4 separate regions of the Homo sapiens genome follow, and regions 2, 3 and 4 are each linked to region 1. The links come from fine-mapping of genetic effects on gene expression. A gene starts in region 1. Each other region holds a variant in brackets. All regions are shown on one strand. Distances are between the middles of the regions. Region 1 holds the start of S1PR3 (sphingosine-1-phosphate receptor 3). Region 2 has its middle 96 kb from the start of MIR4289. Region 3 overlaps LOC124902205 (a long non-coding RNA gene). Region 4 overlaps LOC124902205 (a long non-coding RNA gene).

The links. PIP is the estimated chance that this variant, and not a neighbour inherited with it, causes the effect.
Region 2: its variant is the best candidate, but not a certain one, in a credible set for the expression of S1PR3 in whole blood (INTERVAL, PIP 0.64).
Region 3: its variant is the best candidate, but not a certain one, in a credible set for the expression of S1PR3 in whole blood (INTERVAL, PIP 0.51).
Region 4: its variant is the best candidate, but not a certain one, in a credible set for the expression of S1PR3 in whole blood (TOPMed, PIP 0.75).

What each region holds. Positions count from the first base shown.
Region 1 is chr9:88,989,238-88,994,388 of GRCh38, forward strand. It overlaps S1PR3 (sphingosine-1-phosphate receptor 3), which reads left to right and starts at 2,231. Exons shown (of 2, transcript NM_005226.4): 1 at 2,231-2,458. RefSeq lists a silencer at 1,777-2,071.
Region 2 is chr9:88,839,384-88,844,534 of GRCh38, forward strand. No RefSeq gene overlaps it. Among named protein-coding and RNA genes, the nearest start is that of MIR4289, 96 kb to the left of the region's middle. The variant C/T (reference allele first, on the strand shown) is at 2,815.
Region 3 is chr9:88,870,679-88,875,829 of GRCh38, forward strand. The region is part of intron 1 of LOC124902205 (a long non-coding RNA gene); the gene reads left to right. Among named protein-coding and RNA genes, the nearest start is that of S1PR3, 120 kb to the right of the region's middle. The variant A/AAAG (reference allele first, on the strand shown) is at 2,651.
Region 4 is chr9:88,918,125-88,923,275 of GRCh38, forward strand. The region is part of intron 3 of LOC124902205 (a long non-coding RNA gene); the gene reads left to right. Among named protein-coding and RNA genes, the nearest start is that of S1PR3, 71 kb to the right of the region's middle. The variant C/A (reference allele first, on the strand shown) is at 3,035.

The sequences.
Region 1 (5,151 bases):
ATTAAGGGTTACAGAATGGGGATTTCCTCATTCTCGCATTTCTACGTTTATGAGCTGGCATTCTTCTGTTAAACTGCTTTCACTTGTGAAACAGGATGCAGAGGAGGAGACTTATTCAACAGAATTGTAGGGAGGGCTGTTTCTCTCAAAAGGAGTGGTGAGAGAAGATGGTCTCTACCGGGGCATGGAGGGCTCCTTGTCAGAGTCTAGTGTCTGAGCTTTAAGGCCCAGGAAGAGGGCAGCAGATGGGGGTGGGGCAGTGGGTGAGTGAGAGGCCCGTGTGTGGGGAGACCCACTGAGGACAGGGATCTTTAGGCAAACGGAGCCTCACTGAAAGAGGAATTTCAGTGATGCCATGGGTCAGATCCTGGGTCTCTCTTAGGGAAACCTGCCATAAAGCATGAGAGCCACATTACTCCTCAGGGCTTCTGGGCTCCGATTCCGCAGACTAGTTTTGGAGGCATCACCACGCCTCAAGGTTGCTCTGTTATATCAGGGTAACTGACTTTCTCTAGGAACGGAGACTTGGGTGCCCCTTAAAACAACCCTCAGCCAGTATCCTAGCAGTAAATTTTTCATCACGGGAAGCAACTAATTGAACAGAGGTGTGATGAACCTACTGACCACTTTGGTAATATAGACACAGTGGCCACAGTATGCTGTATTGTTATCCTGGTTGTGACCAATGCCAAAGGAGCATGTTTCCTTCTTTTCTTGACTTGATGCTGTAGGAGTCCAACAAAGGGAAGCACATTCAGGCCCACATGAAACTTGGGACAGAAGTGGCTTCTCAGAGCCGTGCACCAGGCACTTTGAACAAGTTGGAAGGCTACAGTGCCGGAAGACTCCACAGTAGCACAGGCGAAGTGGCTTAGGCGAAAACGCTGGGAAGTACCCCAGCTCCCGGGGGCCAGAGCCTCTAGGGCTGGCAGCCTCAGCAGGCAGAGTCACTTGCCTCCTTCAGCTCAATTGCTGAGGGCTTGCGTTTCTCTGCAGGGAACAGGAGTGCCGCCGACTTCCACTCTTGGTGCCCTTCACCGCTCAAACTGCACCCCAAATAAGCGTATGCACCCTGCTCCAAGAGAAGGATGCGCTGGGCTGATCCTCTGGAGGCAAGAGGGCAAAAGACAGAAAGTAACGAGCGGCCTTTGCACAAACTCAACTCTCTGCAGCGGCCCCTGCGGCCCAATCCTGCCGGCCCAGGAATGCACGGTCGGATAACAGGCCTCTCCTTGCTTTTTCGTCTTCTTCCTCCCGCTTCTCTCCTCTCTCCTTTTCCTCCTCCTCCTTTTTCTTTAATTTTCTCCTTTCTCCCCAAGCTTCTACAGTTGTTTCTGTGTTCGCTCAATCATGGCCTTTGGCATTGATTGAAAATTTGGCAGTTCCTTCTCTCGGAATTCTGTTTGAAGCCTTCATATGGATTTATTATTATTATTATTATTTTTGCCACACAAAAGGGGCAAATCCGCGTGAGGAAGGGGGTCGCATGGGGGTCGGCTGAGATCTGCTGGCTGCCGGTCTAGGAGGGGCGCTGCTCTGTGCCGGAGTGGGCTCTGGTGCACCAGCAGAGGCTGGGGGAGAGTGCTGCCCCCGCCTGGAGCCCAAGTCTCTGCGTGCCTGGGGGTAGAGCGCGGAGAGGGACCAGGCAGGCGCCGGAGGGGACCCGCGCGGAAAAGGAAGAAGCCCAAACAAAAACGCTGTCCGGCGCCAGGCGCCCACCTGCAAGCCCAAGCCGGTGCTCGGCCAGTTACAAAAGAAATGGTCAGGATCTGGACAACGATAATGATAGTATTAATCCTCCTATTAAGAATCGGCCCAAACAAACCCTCGCTGTCAGGGCGACAGGCGCCCGCCCAAGCCCAGACCTCGGACCTGGTTCCAAGCCTGTTCCCGCTGGGTCTCTGGGCGCCCGGTTTCTGCACCTGGAGCTCGCCCGATGAGGACAAGGTCTGGAGGCCGGCCTGGGAACAGGGGCCGAAGGGCGAGCCGGACCCTAGGGGATTGGTAGGGTCGGGGAGAAGGGGTCCAGGCTAGGGGCGGGCGGGGCGCACGGAGACCAGGCGGCTTGAGCGGGAGGTGGGGAGCTGGAGGAGTGCCGGGTTCGCGGGCGGGGGACGGGGAGAGGGGGGCGGGGAGAGGGGCGGGAGTCGGGGGCGGCGAGGGGAGGGGCGGAGCGCGGGTCCCGCCCCGGCGGGCCGCTGGAAAAGTTTAGTCTCTGACTCGCTCGGGCAGAGGCCGAGGAAGCCGGTTCCGGGGACGGGCAACAGGGACTCAGGGACCAGAAGGCGGCTGCAGGACGCGACCGAGCAGGACCCCAGGCCCGGGAACGACGTCGCGAGCGCTGAGACTGCCGGGCCTCCCAGCCCATCTGGCATTCGAGCGCAGGACCGGGCGCCCCGGCACCGCCGCGCGCCACCCGCTAGGATGCCGGTGGCCCCAGCGCCCTCAGCCGACGGAGGTGAGAGGCGGGCCCGGGCGGGGCGCGGAACCAGGGTGGGGGGCTGGGGGCCGAAGGACCCACCTTTCCAACAAAATCCCCACCGATCCCGGGCGCGACGGGGACTTGGGCGCGCCACGGCGGCCGGAGCGCTCCACATCAGCACCCCTCCCCCAGAGCCGCTGCAGGAACAGGGAGGAGGCCTTTTCCACCGCACCCGGAGCGTTTACAACGGGCTGGAGCTGAATACCTGGATGAAAGTGGAGAGGCTGTTCGTGGAGAAGTTCCATCAGTCGTTTTCCTTGGACAATTAACAAGTTAGGCTTCCACAGTGCCAGGGCCTGGGGATGCTGGACGTGGGAGAGGGTTGTGGTCGTTAGCCTGGGAAAATCATTCTTTTAAACAATATTCGCCGGAAAATTAGTTTTTTCCTAACATTTCTCAAACAAGGCAATTAGGGCCGTCAGAATCGGTGCTGGAAGACGAAGTCCCCACAGTGCAATAATGAGGTTCCCACGGAAAATCAGTACGTTGTGTTCGTAACTGAGATAACAGCTAGAGAAGGGGCTTTGGGCTTTTTGAGTCTCCCAATAGTCAGTCTCTCTCTCTCTCTCTCTCTCTCTCTTCCTCTGACTTTCTGGCTTTGGACACTCCCAATGGTATATTTCTTTGTGGTGTTTTTATATTTGGATATAAGAGAGGAACTTCTTGTTGGATTTTTAAGGGAACACACTTCGTTTTGACCCTTCCAATAAGGAAAGGGGAGCTACAGGAACAGAGAGCTCTTTAGAAGGTTACTTTTAAATGGAGGCCCCCCCATTCATGGTACCCACTCCCACTTGGACCTCTGAGACCTCCAGAATTAGGCATCATTCTAAAATCTGGACATTAGAAGTCACAGACTTTGTATATAACCACATATTCATAATTTATCTTTTCAATGTTTTTTATTCATAGATGAAAATCTTGCAGGCATAGTTAAGAAAAATATAATTCCTAGAAAGTACAAGGGAAGGATTATGCTCTGCAGATACATGACTAACAAGGATAGCTGGCCATGCCCAGGGCTGGTGTTGGTTGAGGAGGTGGTGATGGTGCGGGGCATGTGTGTGTGTGTGTGTGTGTGCGCTTGAGGAGTTGTGGAAGTGTTCATATCTGTAAAGTATTATTTCATGGATGCAGACCTTAATGCTAGGTTGAATAACTTTGTTGCCATAGAAGAAGAACCGCACGTCAGGCTTTTTTCATTAGCAAACCAGTAAGCACTCACTTTGGGCCTCTGAAATCACTTCCATCACCTAACACCAGAGATACAAACTGAAGCTAGCCCTTAAGAGCCTCCCCCTAAGATTTAGAGAGAATGATTTCTCAACCAGTTTTCATCTTTGAAAGTGCCATTTCTCCCTTTATCATTGTGATTTTTATTCAAATGCATGAGTCTCTGATTTTCTACCATATACAAAGGGTAGAGACTACAGTTTCCTATAGAAGAAACTTCACATAGTGGCCGAAGGATCTTATTTCTCAAAATTCAGGAACTGGTTTCCTCTTTCTGGAAATTATGACATTAACTTGATTTCATGGTATCTCTTTCATCTTCCTCAATGCCTGTGCTGTATGTATATTTTTATTATATACTGTAGGTATATTTTTATTACCAAAAAAAGGAGAATTTGAGCATGCCACAATCTTGAAAAATCTGAGGTTGCCCTGCTGTAGAACCCTTTAACTGCCAGGACTTTGTACTGTTTCCCAAGTGTTACCAGAGCCAGGCCGCCAGCCTTATGCAGTCTGTTTACCTTAGCTGGAACCAGGGTGCTGTGCTGTGGGTTCTATGAAACTTTCTGTTTCTTCATATTTGGCTTTGTAATTCCTTTCTTATCAGTTTTGGAGGCATTTCCTATTATTCCTCTGCCATATGTTTTCTGCCAAATTAATTGCCTTAAGATTTTCCTTAAGCTTTTGGAAATGTATAATGTTTGAGAAAAAAGAAAAAGAATAGACTGAGTGGAATCGTATCTAGTTTCAGTTAATAACATGTTTCAGTTGATGTTACTGTTATAGCTACTGGGCATAAAGTCTCCTTCCCTTTTTTGAATCCTATTTTTGAGGCATTGAAGCTGTGTCTGTAAGAGACAATAGGCCAGTTGGGTTAAATCAGTGACGAGATTGTCCAGTGCAGATTGGTGCCCAGTGAGTGGATCTTCACTGCTCACAGGCCGGACTGGGGTCAGCTCACACAGCGAGGTGACGGTCCGCTCCTCAAGCAGTGGATGGTGCTCTTCGGCCTTGCAGATGCCGCTCCATTTTCCTGGCTTCAAAATTTTCCAGATATTTCAGTGCCCCCAGAATGACATGCTAACATTCTGCTGGCATGGGAGCATGAGGCAGTTTGTCTCTAAAACATGCCAGAGAATCTCTTGTCACTACCTAGGCAAAGAACCAGTGGCAAGGTGGCAGCCTCCCAAAGAGCTCATCCCTAATGTGACATCCTGGAATCAGATGGCACGGACACCGGCCCAGCCCCTTCCCAGCTCTGTGACTAAGGACAAGTGACACCCCCCCTCCCCCAGCCTCGGTCTCCTCCTGTGTACATTCAGAAGGCAGATGCTGCCATGAGGCCATGTGTGCTATGTCCATGGTGCAAGGTGGCACGCATGCCGAGTCACCAGGTGAGACTGCCGCTTTGGGAAGGGATAGGAAGGATCTCCGGT
Region 2 (5,151 bases), 150 kb before region 1:
ACACTGTCAGCAAACAATTCAGTGTTCATGAAAAAATCTAGAACTTAGTAATAGTACATATATTTGTTTCTGTGAGTCCAGAGAGTGATCATGTAAGTGTGTGAGGATGTAATCCCTCACATGTGGAATAAAAGGGTCATGTTTCATTCAGCATTGAATCACCCTTAACAAATAATCGACGAGGAAGCCCGCTGTTGCCTGCCTCAGTGGACGGGGCTACCAGGAAGCATACAAAGGCTCATCACAGCAGAAATTCATTCTGTGGAAAATGTGATCAAGATCCATTTCAAATGCCAGAGCCCTGCTTTATTTGACAAATTCAACAATCCTGAGATGATTGGTCATGGATTCAAGGCCTAAGCAAAACTGGCTTCCAGCAAATTCCATAGGCCCTTGTTTTGACCTCTTCTGAAAATGGTAGGTATCACATTTCACCAATCATTTTTCTTTACAGTAATAACCAAAATGAAAGCTTATTTTAATTTCTCTAAATAGTCAAAGGTTTCTCTTGTTTTCCTACATATTTCGGGTGTCTGGGGCTCTCTACCTGACTCAGATCTCTTAGATTATCTTAGTAATCAACTCAGCCTTGAGGAGTTCTCTTCCCAGAAAAAGCTAAGGCTTTGCTGCTGAAAGCCAGCATGTTACTGGAGTACAAATTTGATTCTCCTTCTCTGAGAGGGTGCTGGTTTTCATTTCCAAGCACTGGGACCACACAGCTGCTGCTGGATACCCACAAGTGTTTCACAAAAGCAGTCCTGTGTCTGGGGTACCCTCAGCAAGCACTTATAAAATGCTGCATCTTTCTTTTCCCAGGAAAAAAAGATAGTGTTCTGTGCCTGACTAGGAAGTTCTGGTGGTTTTCTTAGTTAGCACATGAGAGGTTGACAGTTGCCAGTCTCCAGTGAAGCTGTCAACAGGTTATACGCAAATAAGAAATTACTTTAACACATACAAAACTTTTCTTTAGAAGAATGCAGACAACTTATATTCAATTTCATTTCAAAATGCTACCGATTTTCATATTTAGAGAAAATAAGTACGTAATACCTCCTGAAATTAACATATGTTCCACAATTGTGTGTGTGTGTGTTTGCACAATCATGCCAATAGTGTATCTCTGTAAGATATACATTTTTTTCTTTTTTGAGACAGAGTCTCACTCTGTCACCCAGGCTGGAGTGCAGTGGCGCGATCTCAGCTCACTGCAACCTCTGCCTCCTGGGTTCAAGCAATTGTTCTGCCACAGCCTCCTGAGTAGCTGGGATTACAAGTGCCTGCCACCACACCCGGCTAATTTTTGTATTTTTAGTAGAGACGGCATTTCACCATGTTGGCCAGGCTGGTCTCGAATTCCTGACCTCGTGATCCATCTGCCTGGGCCTCCCAAAGTGCTGGTATTACAGGCATGAGCCACCATGCCCGGCCACCAATTTATATTCATTGAAAATGTTACCCGCATTCTCGCCAACACTGGGCAATATTAAACTTTTAATCTGATAGGCGAGAAATAGAATCTCATCATTGTTTACATTTGCAGTAACATTAGTGATGAAGTTGAGCCTCTGTTCATGTGTATACCATCATTGATATTTCTTTTTCTATGAACTACTTGTTCAAGTCCTTTGTAGTTTATGTTCAATAGAATTGTTTATCTTTTTCTTATTGATTTGTATGAGCATTTTATATATTAAGAAATTCTGTCTTTGTTGTATGAAATACAACTAATTTCTACTTCCTAATAAATAGTATGGCATTTGTCTACTTCCTTTGTTACTTTGTGCAATTATTATTATTATTATTATTTTGAGATGGAGTCTTGCTCTGTCACCCAGGCTGAAGTGTAGTGGCATGATCTCAGCTCACTGCAACCTCCGCCTCCCGGGTTCAGATGATTCTCATGTCTCAGCCTCCCGTGTAGCTGGGATTACAGTTGCGCACCACTGCGTCTGGCTAATTTTTGTATTTTTAGTAGAGACGGGGTTTCACCATGTTGGCCAGGCTGGTCTCGAACTCCTGACCTCAAGTGATCCACCCACCTCGGCCTCCCAACGTGCTGGAATTACAGGCATGAGCCACCGTGCCTGGCTGGAAAATTTTTATAAAGTCAAATTTATTAATCAATTTTTTCCTTTGTGATGTCTGGAATTTATAGCATATTTAGAAAGAATTTCCATAATTTGGAAAAATCTATACAAATCTACCTGTTTGGTTTATAGTGCACTTGTGGCTTTTTTTTTTGTAGTTAATATTTTTATTTATCTGAAATGTCTTTTGAAATAAGGTAGGAATAAGCATTTTTGTGATTTTTCAAATGACAAGCTATCTTTTTCTACACAGGTATACTTTCATTTGAAACACCAATTTTTGATCTATGGAGTTTTCACATGCATTTGGCATGCAGACTGTGCTTGCAGACTGTGGTGGGCTTGCAGACTGTGGTGCTGGGCAAAAACAGAACTAGTTCCACTTTCTATCAGTCTATTCCTGTACAACACTATATTGTCCTATGTTATTAGCATCATAATATATTGTATTTAACAGATATAACTAGACTCACATCATTTTTTTCTTTAAAAATTTTCAGGCTAATCCTATACTGGTTAATTTTAGAATAATTTTGCCAGGGGAATTTTAGAATTGCATTCATTACTAATTTCAGAATTATTGTTTTAAGCCTTCTTTTCCAAGCATAATGAACTCATGTTTTCCATTTATTCAAGTTTTCTATCATACCCCTATTGCCATCATCCTCATTATTATTTTTGCCCAACCACTTTGGACTGCCTAGCTGCCATCATAATTTTCTAGGCG[C/T]AGAGTCACATCAGCCAGTTATACTCATTACCTTTTTTCTTCCACTTTAGTCTTATCTCTTCTTCCACTTCATTGCTTTGACTAAGTATTTATGACAATACAAGGGGCATAAGTAAGTGTCTCCATCTTTCATCTGACTTTACAGGAAATACTTTTAGTTTTTATTACTGAGTAGTAGTTGAGAAACAGGGTTTGGAAATTACCTTACTTGGATTCAAATACCAACTCTATTCCAAATGGATATGTGACTTGGAAAAAGTTCTCAACATCTGTTAAATGGGGATATTAATACTACCAATCTCTGTTTTATTTTTTCCATTTTGTTTGTCAAGTATTGTAATCACTGTTATGTTCATTCATAGTAGAAATTTGGATGCTTCCCATCTTCCTTATAAGTTCCAAACCGTATAAATATCATCAGAATCATGTTTTCTTTGAAAGTGGGAAAAAATATGGGCTTGGCAATTTGGGCAATATCACTTTAGGAATCTTCACAATTTATTTTGCTTTTATTGGTCTCTTTAGGTTTTTTAAAAAAATCTCTTATAAAATCAAATTTTGTGATTTATATTTTCCTAGAAAATCACCTATTTAATCAAGTTTTCAAATTTATTAGCACAAATCAATAACTGTTTAAATCAATAACTGTGTCCTGTCATACTTCTTCTTTCTTTGTACCTGTGGCTATGTCCCGGCACACAGTGCTAAGTTTGTGTGCTTATACCTTCCCTTACCTTGTTTATTAATGAGCCTGGGCAGTTGGTGCAACTCTATCCTGGGATCTATAATGAACAAGCACTGAGATTTGTCAGTTCTATTATTAATTGTTTCCTGGTTCTTAAAATCTTGCTTCTTCTGTATTGACTTTTTCCTTTTTTTCATTTTTTGTTATTTCTTATTTTTCTTATTTCTGAAGATTTTTTATTAGTTTATTATTTCTCACTTAGCAATGTAAAGATTTAAGTCTATGAACTTAACTTTGGGAATAACTATTCATATCTCATAGACTTTAAAAAACAGCTTTATCTAAGTATAATAAAGCATTGGCATACAATAAATAAATAAATTGTGTATATTTAAAGTGTTCAGTTTAAGTTTTTGACATATACACTTTTAACATATACACCCATGAAACCATCACCATAGTTAAGATAATGAAGATATTCATTACCCCAAAGGGTTCCCTGTACCCTTTTTAATTCCTCGTATTTGGCCCCTCTTTGACTTACCTCAATATCCCAAGGGAATCACTAATTTTTTTTCCCTCTCACTATAAATTAGTTTGCAAATTCTAGAATATTATATATATTAAGTTATATACTATGTATTTTTTTAATCTGGCTTTTTTTCTCTCATCATAATTATTTTGAAATGCATCAATGTCATATAGTGTATCAATAGTTAAGTTTTTTTATAGTTGAGTAATTTTCCATTGTATGGAAATGCCAACTTTGCTGAAGTATTCATCTGTTCATAGACATTTGGGTTATTTCCAGTTTGGGGCTATTACAAATAAAGTTGCTGTGAACATAGTGAATACATCTTTGTATGGATATATGCTTTCATTTATTTTGGGTAAGAACCTAGAAGTGAAATGTTTGGATCAGAAGTGTATGACTAACTTTTTTTATTTTATTTTATTTTATTATTATTACACTTTTGAAGAAGTTGCCAAACCTGTTTCCAGAGTGGTCTTGCCATTTTACATTCCCACCAGCAGTGTATGAGAGTTACAGTTGCTTCAGGTTCTGGCCAATACTTGACAAAATAAATCTGTCTAATTCAATCATTCTAATAGATGTGTGATGATACCTCATTGCAGTTTTAATTTGCATTTTCCTAATAACAACTTTTCATGTGCTTATTGATTATATATATATATATATATATAATATTCTTTGGTGAAACATCTTAATCTTCTGTCAATTTTTTTATGGTTTGTTTTCTTATTGTTGAGTTTTAAGAGTTTCTAAATATATTCTGGATAAGATTTTTCATCAGATATATGCTTTATGAATATTTTTTCCAGTTTGGGGTTTGATTTTTTTAATTCTCTTAACAATATATTTCAGAAAACAAAAGATTCTTTGATGAAGCTACATTTATAGTTTTTTTAAGGGTTGTGCTTTTTGTACAATATCTAAGAAATCTTTGCCTAACACAAGGTCACCAAAAAACCTCCTGTTTTCTTGTAGGAGTTTGTAGTTGTAGCTCTTACATTTATATTTGTAATCTATTTATAATTGATTATTTTATATGGTGCAAAGTATAGACTGAAATTATTTTTATTTTTGTATATAGATATCCAATTTGTTGAAAAGACAATCTTTTCTTTAC
Region 3 (5,151 bases), 120 kb before region 1:
AGTTGAATTCCTAAATCAATACAATGCAAAATCCATTGGTTAAAAAGAACATGAATGAGATAATTTTTTCCTACTCATGGGTCGCACCCCGAGGGACTTGCTCTGGCTTCCAACCCTCGTGGGGAGGCAGCAGCCCTGGTTAGTGGGTGGGCTCCGTGGCTCCTCTTGTGCTGTTGGGTCAGCACAGCAGCTGGAAGCCAGAGGGTCACCTGTCCTTTTGTACCAGCGAAGGTTCATTTTCCTCAGTGTTTCCCCAAGGGCAGGAACATATTTTTACTGATGACCAATTCAGTTTTTCCAGAGGTCCATGTGTTTCTGAATTCAGAATTTTAGAATCCAGTAAAGTTCATATTGTCAAATAACTTATTTAAAGAGTTAGGGAAAGACTTGGGGAAAGACTTTCCAATCTCTCACTTCACTTCCAGTGTGAGATGTTATTTATATATGCAAAACTGGGAGGTATATATGTATATACACATCTAATAAGAATAACTTGAGTTGAGCAACCCTAAGATGCTACCATTTGTTTCATCCTTTTTAAATGTGCGTAGCCCCTCTCCAAACACACATAAGCAGTTTGAGGCAGGGACCATATTTTGTACTTTTTGCCTTCAAAGAGCATGATCCATAGCAGGAGCTACTAATGAGTGTTCGATCATCATAATGATGAATTAAATATAGATATTTTGTCATTCGTATTTTATTCATTTATTTTTGGAGATGGAATCTTGCTCTGCTGCCCAGGCTAGAGTGCAGTGGTGTGATCTTGGCTCACTGCAACCTCCGCCTCCCAGGTTCAAGCGATTCTCCTGTTCAGCCGCCCGAGTAGCTGGGGTTACAGGTGCCCACCACTATGCCTGGATAATTTTTGTATTTTTGGTAGAGACAGTGTTTCGCCATGTTGGCCAGGGTGGTCTCAAACTCCTGACCTCAGGTGATCCACCCAAGTTGGCTTCCGAAAGTGCTGGCATTACAGGTGTAAGCCACCTTGCCTGGCCTATTTTGTCATTTTAAAAATGTATTTCTCTACCTTCAGGTGGAGTCACAGATCTCAGTGGTCACCCCCAAGTGGAGAAGCTGTGCGATGCTGATGGCCTCTAGGGGGTGAGGCCACTGGGAACCAAGCCCTCCCCTGCAGCCCAGCGCTGTGTCCGCTGCAGCATGGGATCCTCGGGGCACTGGCTGGGGACATCTGAAGAGGTTATTGCTTCGCTGGCATGGACGGCAAGGGTCACACTGCCCAGCTGTGAGTTGCCCCTCAAGCAGCACCCTGTCGCCATTCCAGAGGAATGTTCCAGAGGAAACAAGGAACTGAGCTTAGCTCATCTCTGGTCTCTCCTCCCAGGAAGGACTTTTGTGAGGCCTGTTTTGTCCCCCACTGCCCGGCCATAGCCAAGTCCCTAAATGGACCTTCTTTGAAGGAAGAACCCAGCTACTCAACGCCCACCCTGTTCCCAGCCCCTGGTTTTGATGAAAATGCAGTCGTGCCCATGAAACTAGGAATCTGTGGGGTTTTTTAAAACTGCAGTGAGAGACAAAGAGCTGCTTCTCTTTGTCAACCAGGCTTCCCCCCTCCAGACATTTGCTTCTGCTTAGAGATATTATGAGCCGGAAAATTCACAAGGCCAAATCAGAGACAGGGGAAATTCCTCTGAGGGTTGGTGAATGGAATATAAATCCTGCTCTGATGTGGAAAACTAAGTTGCTGCTCAGTCATTATTCCTGTCAGCATTCCAGGGCCAGTCCTTGTCATTAAAGCTGCACTTTCATCCTGTCCACACACTCAAGGCCACACAAAAATAAGGGACTGCCCAACACTAAACTTCTTTTATTTTTTGAGGGAAGGGGGCACTCCTCTTTAGGGAAACAATATGTTTAAGTCAAGCAAAGAAGTTAAAAGTATGAAAACCATCTATGTGCATTTTCCTTTTCTCCATCTCCCCCCATCCACTCTTTCAACCTTCAGCGCTAATTTCTTGTTACCAACCTTGCACTAATACAATGCGACATTCTCAGGCCTGGAATTTGGTCTTTCAAAGCTGGTTCTGCTCCAAGTCCTCTGTGACCTTTCATTACTTTCTTCCACACCCCCTTATCTGAGCTGTCCATGTCTAAATGGAACCTACAGTTCCCAGAGAGAAGACAGAGAGAAAGAGAGACAGAAATAAAGAAGAGAGGGAGAAATAAAGGGAGGGAGGGAGTGACATAGAAGAGTCAAGGAGAAAGAGAGAGGGAGAGAGAGAAAAAGAAAGAGACAGAGAGGGAAGGAGAGAGAGAAAGAGTCAAAGAGAGAGGCAGAGAGAAGAAAGAAGGGAAGAAGAGAGGAAGAGAGAGAGGCAGATGGAGAGAGAGGGAGAGGAAGACACTGAGAAAGAGTCAAAAGCAGATAGCGGTGTGGGGAGAGAGAGAGAGAGAGAGAGAGAGAGAGAGAGAGAGAGAGAGAGAGAGAACCGAGAGGACCAGGCTGACTTGAGTGTCTCCTGCTGTGATCCAGCTCTGGAGGCCACACAGCATCGCTTCTACTGCATTCCACCCCACCCCATCTAAGGCAGTCACCAAGATTCAAGAGACAGAGAGTGGGAGAGTGAAACAAAGAGAGAGAGAGGGGGAGAGAGATAGAGAGAGAGAGAGAGAGAGAAAGAGGAAGAAG[A/AAAG]AAGAAGAAGAAGAGGAAGAAGAAGAAGGAAGAAGAAGGAAGAAAGAAGAAAGAAGAAGAAAGGGAGGGAGAGAGGCAGAAAGAGACAGAGACAGAGCAGCGAGGCAGAATGAGAGACAGAGAGAGAGACACAGAGAGACAAAGTGAGAGAGTGAGAGAAAGACAGAGACAGAGAGAAAGAGACAGAAAGCAGAAAAGCAAAGGAGAGAAAGAGTGACAGAGAGAGAGAGTGAGAGAGAGAAAGAGAGAGAGGACATACACTGGCAAATCCCAGTTTCCTGTGGGAGAGGGGAAAGCAGAGCCGGTGTGTCTGGAATTACTCTTCTTCCCCAATCTATAATCCTTTTTCATGTTTTGATTAGAAACACTGTTGAGATGGAGCACCTATGAGAGGTCGTTCTCCTGGCATGGTCACAGCCTCATCTGGGCAGCTCTTGGCTCTTGGGCTCCTGCCCCGGGGCGGATCTTCATGAAGCACTCACGCTGTTGCCAGGAGGGGTCTGTCCAGCTGCATCATGCACCTGAGGACCCTTGTGCTTGCGGGGTGTGCATTCTCACTGCTAGTCCCGAGGGAGCAGAGAGCCCCACCGGCCCTGCTTCATTCTCCTTGTCCTGGCCATGCAAATGCGCTTCTCAGGAGGACCAGGAGCTGCCGAGGAAGGGGAGTCTGATCGGTGCAGTGATCAGGGACTCCAGGCTCACACAGTTTTCCCTGGAGAGCCCGAGAGGCAGGGAGTCTCTTACATTCCAGAAGAGAAAGAGGGACCATTCAGGATGGCAGGTTCAAGGATGAAGAGTTTTCTGTTTCTCAAAGCTTTTGGGGGATGACAGTTATGATTTTCATTCTTTAACATACGTTCAAACGTGGGCAACATGGATAAATATGCATTGCCACTATCACTTCATGAGTGACTTGAGAACTTTGGAATTAGGCAGAAGTTATGGCCCCCAAAACTGCTATTTTCTTTCTAATTAGACAATACAAGTACTTGAGGAATTAATTTGCTGTTTGCTTTCAGCGCTGACACATGAACAGTGAAAGGGGTCAAATTGTGCTGCGGCCATCTCCCCATCTCCTCCCCTCGCCTGACCTTGACCCGCCTGTGACCTTGGCTCTGTTGGCACCGTGCTAAGCCAATTACACTCACTCGGTGGCTCAGCCACATACCACAGTATCAGGCAGTCACAGCAAAGGAGTGGCTTTAGAATATGTGAAGGATCACCCCTGTAAATATGATTATCTTTCCTGGGCAGGAGAAACTGGAAGTTCATGTGTTACTGATGGCCACCTGGCGTCTCTGCACATAAGTGCAGGGCCATTATTGAGGATGGGAGAAGTTGTCACTATGACTAAGAGACTGTGGCTCTCCAAAGAGTGTCTGCCGAAAGGACCAGTCTCCTTGGAGAGTGTAATGTGTCATGGCACTATTCACTTTTGGGGGAAAAGAGCTTTACTTTTTAGAGTAAACTTGTGTTGAAAAGAACCAAAGCAAACACTGAAACCTATTCACAGACTGAAATCTTGTTTGCCTCAGGGAAATACTGTGCAAAATATTCTACAATCTTGAAAGTGCCCTGAAAATGAGTACTCCCTGTTTCAAGTCCTCAAATACCAATGACTCCAGAGAAGGCTGTGTTCTCCAATTTCACCTAAAAAGTAACAGATCTCCTAATGTTTTAAAGTTTGTGGGTTAAGCAGGAGCCTGAAACATTTTTTAAAAATCAACTTTATTGGCTGGGCGCGGTGGCTCATGCCTGTAATCCCAGCACTTTGGGAGGCTGAGGTGGGCTGATCATGAGGTCAGGAGTTCGAGACCAGCCTGGCCAACATAGTGAAACCCCATCTCTACTAAAAATACAAAAATTAGTCGGGTGTGGTGGTGCACGCCTGTAGTCCCAGCTACTCGGGAGGCTGAGGCAGGAGAATCATTTGAACCTGGGAGGCAGAGGTTGCAGTGAGCTGAGATTGTGCCACTGCACCCCAGCCTGGGCGACAGAGCAAGACTCAGTCTCCTAAAAACAAAAAAAAAAAAAAAAAAAAGAAAATCAGCTTTATTGAGGGATGTAGAATTCACATATGACACCCTGCCCTTTTTTTTTCTTTGTACCTCTTTGTAGTCCCTCCCTCCCTCTGCTTCTGGGCCCAAGCAACCCCTGATTTGCTTTTGGTCACTAAAAATCTCTTTCCTAGAGTTTTATATAAATGAAAGCATGTAATATGTGACCTTTTGTGCCTGACTACTTTCACTCAGCATAGTGATTTTGAGATTCATCTGTATTTTTGCATATCAGTAATCATTCCCTTTTATGTTGAGTATTACTCATCATATGGAAGTTCCACTTTCATTTTGTTTATTCGTTTATCTGCTGGTGGACATTTGACTGGTCCCCAGTTTTAGGATATTATGAATAATGCCACCATGAACATTCATGTATACCTCTCAGTGTGGACATTTTTCATGGATAAATACTTAATAACATAACATCTGGGTTATATATTT
Region 4 (5,151 bases), 71 kb before region 1:
ATCCGAGCCTTTGGGTGATCCCCTCTCTTTGAATCTGGGCTGGGCTTGGGACCTGTTTTCAATGGAAGGTGGCAGAAATAATGTAGTGCTACTTCCAGAATAAACCCTAGGAAGACCTGGCAGCCCAAGCCATGTGCTTTTGGGGGTCCCTGAACCATGCTGTATAAAGCACAGCTCCCTGGTGGAGACACCCTGCAGAGAGACAATGAAGAGAAGATTCATCTAGAGGAAGAAGCCAGGACTGCACAGAGAGAGGGAGACACCCACCCAAAAATCCAGTGGTGCAGTCAAATCTTAGAGCTCCAAAATAATTTCCTTTGACTCCATGTCTCACATCCAGGTCATGTTGATGCAAGAGGTGTGTTCCCATGGTCTTAGGAAGCTCTGCCCTGTGGCTTTGCAGGGTATATATCTCCCTCCTGGCTGCTTTCATGGGATGGTGTTGAGTGTTTGCAGCTTTTCCAGGTGCATGGTGCAAGCTGTTGGTGGAGCTACCATTCTGGGGACTGAAGGATAGTGGCCCTCGTCTCAAAGCTCCACTAGGCAGTGCCCCAGTAGGGACTCTGTGTGGGAGCTGTGACCCCACATTTCCTTTCTGTACTGCCCTAGCAGAGGTTCTCCATGAGGGCCCCACCCCTGCAGCAAACTTCTGCCAGGGCATCCAGGTGTTTCCATTCATCATCTGAAATCTGGGTGGAGGTTCCCAAACCTCAATTCTTGACTTCCATGCACTCACAGGCTCAATGCCATGTGGAAGCTGCCAAGGCTTGGGGCTTGCACCCTCTGAAGCAATGGCCTGAGTTATACCTTGGGCCCTTCTAGCCATGGCTGGAGTGAGTGAGATGCAGGGCACCTAGTCCCTAGGCTGCACAGAGCAAGGGCACCCTGGTCCCAGCCCATTAAACCACTTTTTCCTCCTAGTCCTCTAGGCCTGTGATAGGAGGGGCTGCTGTGAAGCCCTCTGACATGCCCTGGAAACATTTTCCCCATTGTCTTGGGGATTAATATTCAGCCTCTCATTATTTACCCAAATTTCTGCAGCCAGCTTAAATTTGTCCTCAGAAAATGGGATTTCCTTTTCTACACATTGTCAGGCTGCAATTTTTCCAAACTTTTATGCTCTGCTTCCCTTATAAAACTGAGTGCCTTTAACAGCACTCAAGTCACCTCTTGAGTGCTTTGTTGCTTAGAAATTTCTTCTGCCAGATTCCCTAAATCATCTTTCTCAAGTTCAAAGTTCCACAAATCTCTAGGGCAGGGGCAAAATACCTCCAGTCACTTTGCTAAAACATAACAAGAGTCATCTTTACTCCAGTTCCCAACAAGTTCCTTATCTCCATCTAAGACCACCTCAGCCTGGATTTCATTGTCCACATCATTATCAGCATTTTTGTCAAAACCATTCAACAAGTGTCTAGGAAGTTCCAAACTTTCCCACATTTTCCTGTCTTCTTCTGAGCCCTCCAAACTGTTCCAATCTCTGCCTGTTACCCAGTTACAAAGTTGCTTCCACATTTTTGGGTATCTTTTTAGCAGCACCCTGGTCTACTGGTACCAATTTACTGTATTAGTCCGTTTTCATGCTGCTGATAAAGACATACCTGAGACTGGGCAATTTACAAAAGAAAGAGGTTTAATGGACCCACAGTTCCTTGTGGCTGGGGAGGACTCACAATCATGGTGGATGGCAAGGAGGAGCAAGTCATGTCTTTCATGGATGGCAGCAAGCAAAGAGAGAGAGCTTGTGCAGAGATATCTCCCCTTATAAAACCATCAAATCTTGTGAAACTTATTCACTATCACAAGAACAACACAGGAAAAACTTACCCCCATGATTCAGTTACCTCTTACTGGGTCCCTCCCACAACATGTGGGAATTGTGGAAGCTAAAATTCTAGATGAGATTTGGGTGGGGACACAGCAAATCATATCAGTGTTGGTGGTGGCACCAAATCATTAAATCCAAGTGATGTTAATATCCCCATTATATAGAGGAAAAGACTGACACTCAGGAGCTTCATAGATGGCACCCACTGCCAAGTTCTGCAATACTTTATGAATGTGTTTGTACAGAGCAGGCCATCTCCAGAGTACATCTAGTCTTTCAGAAATGGTTGCTTGCATTATTTTTATTTCTAAGCCTTATTTCTTGCATTTTTTTCACCTCATGAACCATGCTCTCCTTGTTCTCATGCTACTAAGAAACCTGTGCAGTCCTGGGCATCCAAAGCTTAACAGATTTCCAGGATTCTGTTTGGATCTCTGGGAAATTCTGGGGCCATCCTGGAATAAAGCTGGTGTGTTTTGAAAAGTCCAGACATTTTCATCAGAGTTGTTCTACCAGTTATAAACCCCATGGCAGGTGTGATCATGTGTACCATTGATCAAGAAACCTGGGCTGGGAAGGGATAAGGGTCTGCCAAAGTCCTATGTGGAGGATGAAGGGCCAGCAAGTGACCTGACCTCACTTAAGGCTGTGACTCATGAATAGACCACCCTGACAGGAAGGCATTGCTGAGAAGAGGGCCACTCCTCTCCTAACTGACAAAGAGAAATCCCATGTTAGAACAGTCCAAAATGCTCCAGTACAGTTAAGAAATTGGTGAGGCTGAACTTGACACCCTTAGCTTCACCTCCTCATGCATTGCTGGAGGCCCCATATCCTGGTATTCCTGTTTCCAAAGACCCAGCCCTGCTTTCCAGCATCTCATTACCTCCACCTGGTGGGGCCTGTCAGTGTACCACAGGTCTACCTTGATTTCAAGTCCATCTCCTAATAATGAAGTAAAATGTTTTTCCCTGCATTGAAGAAATTTCCAGTGTCTTGGATGGGGGAGCTTAAGGAGCAGATGCTCATTCTTGGGGTATGGAGGTGATAACTTGTAGGCAGACTGTTCCTAGGAACACACGTAAGCTTGGCCCTTTCAGCCACTGGAAGGTAAGTCCAAAGATTCAAGAGGGAAAGGTGGCTGGTTGTGTCTGGCAGAAGGAGGGACACAGTGGAATAATTCTGCAAGTGTCACAGGGAGCCAGT[C/A]TCTGAGATGGCAGAGATAGGTTGGCCATCACTTTAGTGGGAAAAGGAGCATGTCTTTTCAAAGCTTCAAATGGGCCACATTTTTAAAAAGCATCAATTAACCTTCTACACACACACACACACACACACACACACACACACACATCTGAAAGGTGTAGAACTTTCATCAGCAGCAAAAGAGGAATGTTATTGGGAAGGTATACATTCCCAGCAAATTCTTAGCAGATGTGCTGGAGCCAACTTCCCAACTGTAGGGTCTACTCCACTGCAAAGTTTATTTGTATGAATCAGAAAATGATGATGCAGAGGAGGGTGATAATGTAAGGATCAAAATTTGATAATAGTTTTTAATAGGAAGAAAATAGCCTCAAGACTCTAGAGATTCTGTGGAATTCAGTTGCTTTATTAGAGCAAAGAGTTCTCCTTTGGGTGGCATAATAGGAGACTGGCTGCTTAGGAACTTAGTCCCTCACATGGTCTAAGGACAGTGCATGTGAAATACTCCAGCATCTTGTTAAAATGCAGAGTCTTATTCAGTGGGTCTGGGGTGGGACCTAAGATTCTGCATATCTAAAAGGCTCCCGGGCGATCCCTGTGCTGAAGGTCTGCAAACTGTGTTTTCAGCACCAAAGTTAACATTGAACCCCCAAAGTGACCACGGACTGATGGCCTCAGATCATCCAGGCCCACCGATGTACTAAGCACAATGGGCATTGTAACAGCATCTGCCACCTGTTTGAGGGGCCAGCTAGGGATTAGTGGGCATGGGGAGGGCCTAGGAGCCTAAACATTTACAAATATCCAGAAAATGATACACACACAAGTGAAAGGAAGAAGGGTGTGGATACAGGTTAGGACTTCAGCCTATGAATTCTGAAAGGACACAATTCAACCCATCAAACCCGAAAGATGGGGCTTGGGGACAGCCTGGAGCTATTGAATGATGCAAGCTATAAAAAATTCTAGAAAGGATCTGCCCTGTGTGTGCCTGGAGGCTCTGCGGGCACCATTTGCACAGTCAAACTCCTTCCCTCTCCGCTGCTGCAGCAAAACTAATGAACCACAAGAGCTGACTGGGTGGAAGCAGTAAACGACCTCCAGGCAAACACAGTGCCTGAGCCTTGATCTTTGAGGTTTAGCTGCAATGTTATAGGCCAGAAAGTTCACAAGCGAGAGCCCTGAAGATGCACAGCACGTGAGACCGCAATAACCACGGCCTTGTTTCCATCTGCAGAGACGTGAGGGTTCGTTGGCCCCACCCGCTTTGATGTTCTTTTCTTCTGTCTCACACCTGTTTGACCATCTCTTAAATAGGAACATTTTAAAACCAAATTAAAAATTCCATTTTCTGATACATTGTCTCATTTGAATCCAATTTACTAAACATATAATATGCTTTTTCCAATCTTATACTAAAATAATAAAGTGGGGCTCTATGAGAATGCATATCTTTCGTCAACTCAAAGGAAGAACTGAAAACTAACATTTTATTTCAAGGAAACATGCTTAAATGGCTCATTTGATTACTTTTATGTACACATGATACCTCAAAGTCAGATGCCTCAAATCTCAGTGTTCAGATAATCTCCTAAATGAAGATGTATAAAAAGAGCTACTTTTTCTATTTTTAGCTGTGCCTAAAGGATTTTCTTGTCTCTCAGATATTCTCATTTGCTTTGGTTATTCCCCTTTTCTTCTTCTTTCTCCTGTGTGGTTTTGCTTTATGTTTTTAACTTTCTCTGATTTTCAGATTTTTTTTTATTTTCTAGGTTTCTTACCTTTGCCTTTTCTGTCTATTCTTATTTTCACTTTCTTCCAACAAAACACCCACTAAAATTCAGAGCAGGATGGGTCTTTTCTCTTTCTCTCTCTCTCTCTTTTTTTTCAGTCTTTTAGTGTGCTCTCCCTCGTTGGATTATAAATGCTTATATACCTGTCTACATGTGGTCCATGCAGTGACAGAATTTTAGGAAATTAGGAAGTGTGGGATCTCTGGTCTGAAGGTGGTTTTAAGACATAGTCGTACACATGGCATCACCCACTGCTGACCACAGTTGCTAATCTTGGGGACCACAGCAGCCTGAGTTCTGAACCCTTGCCTTTTCTGCACTGTAGCT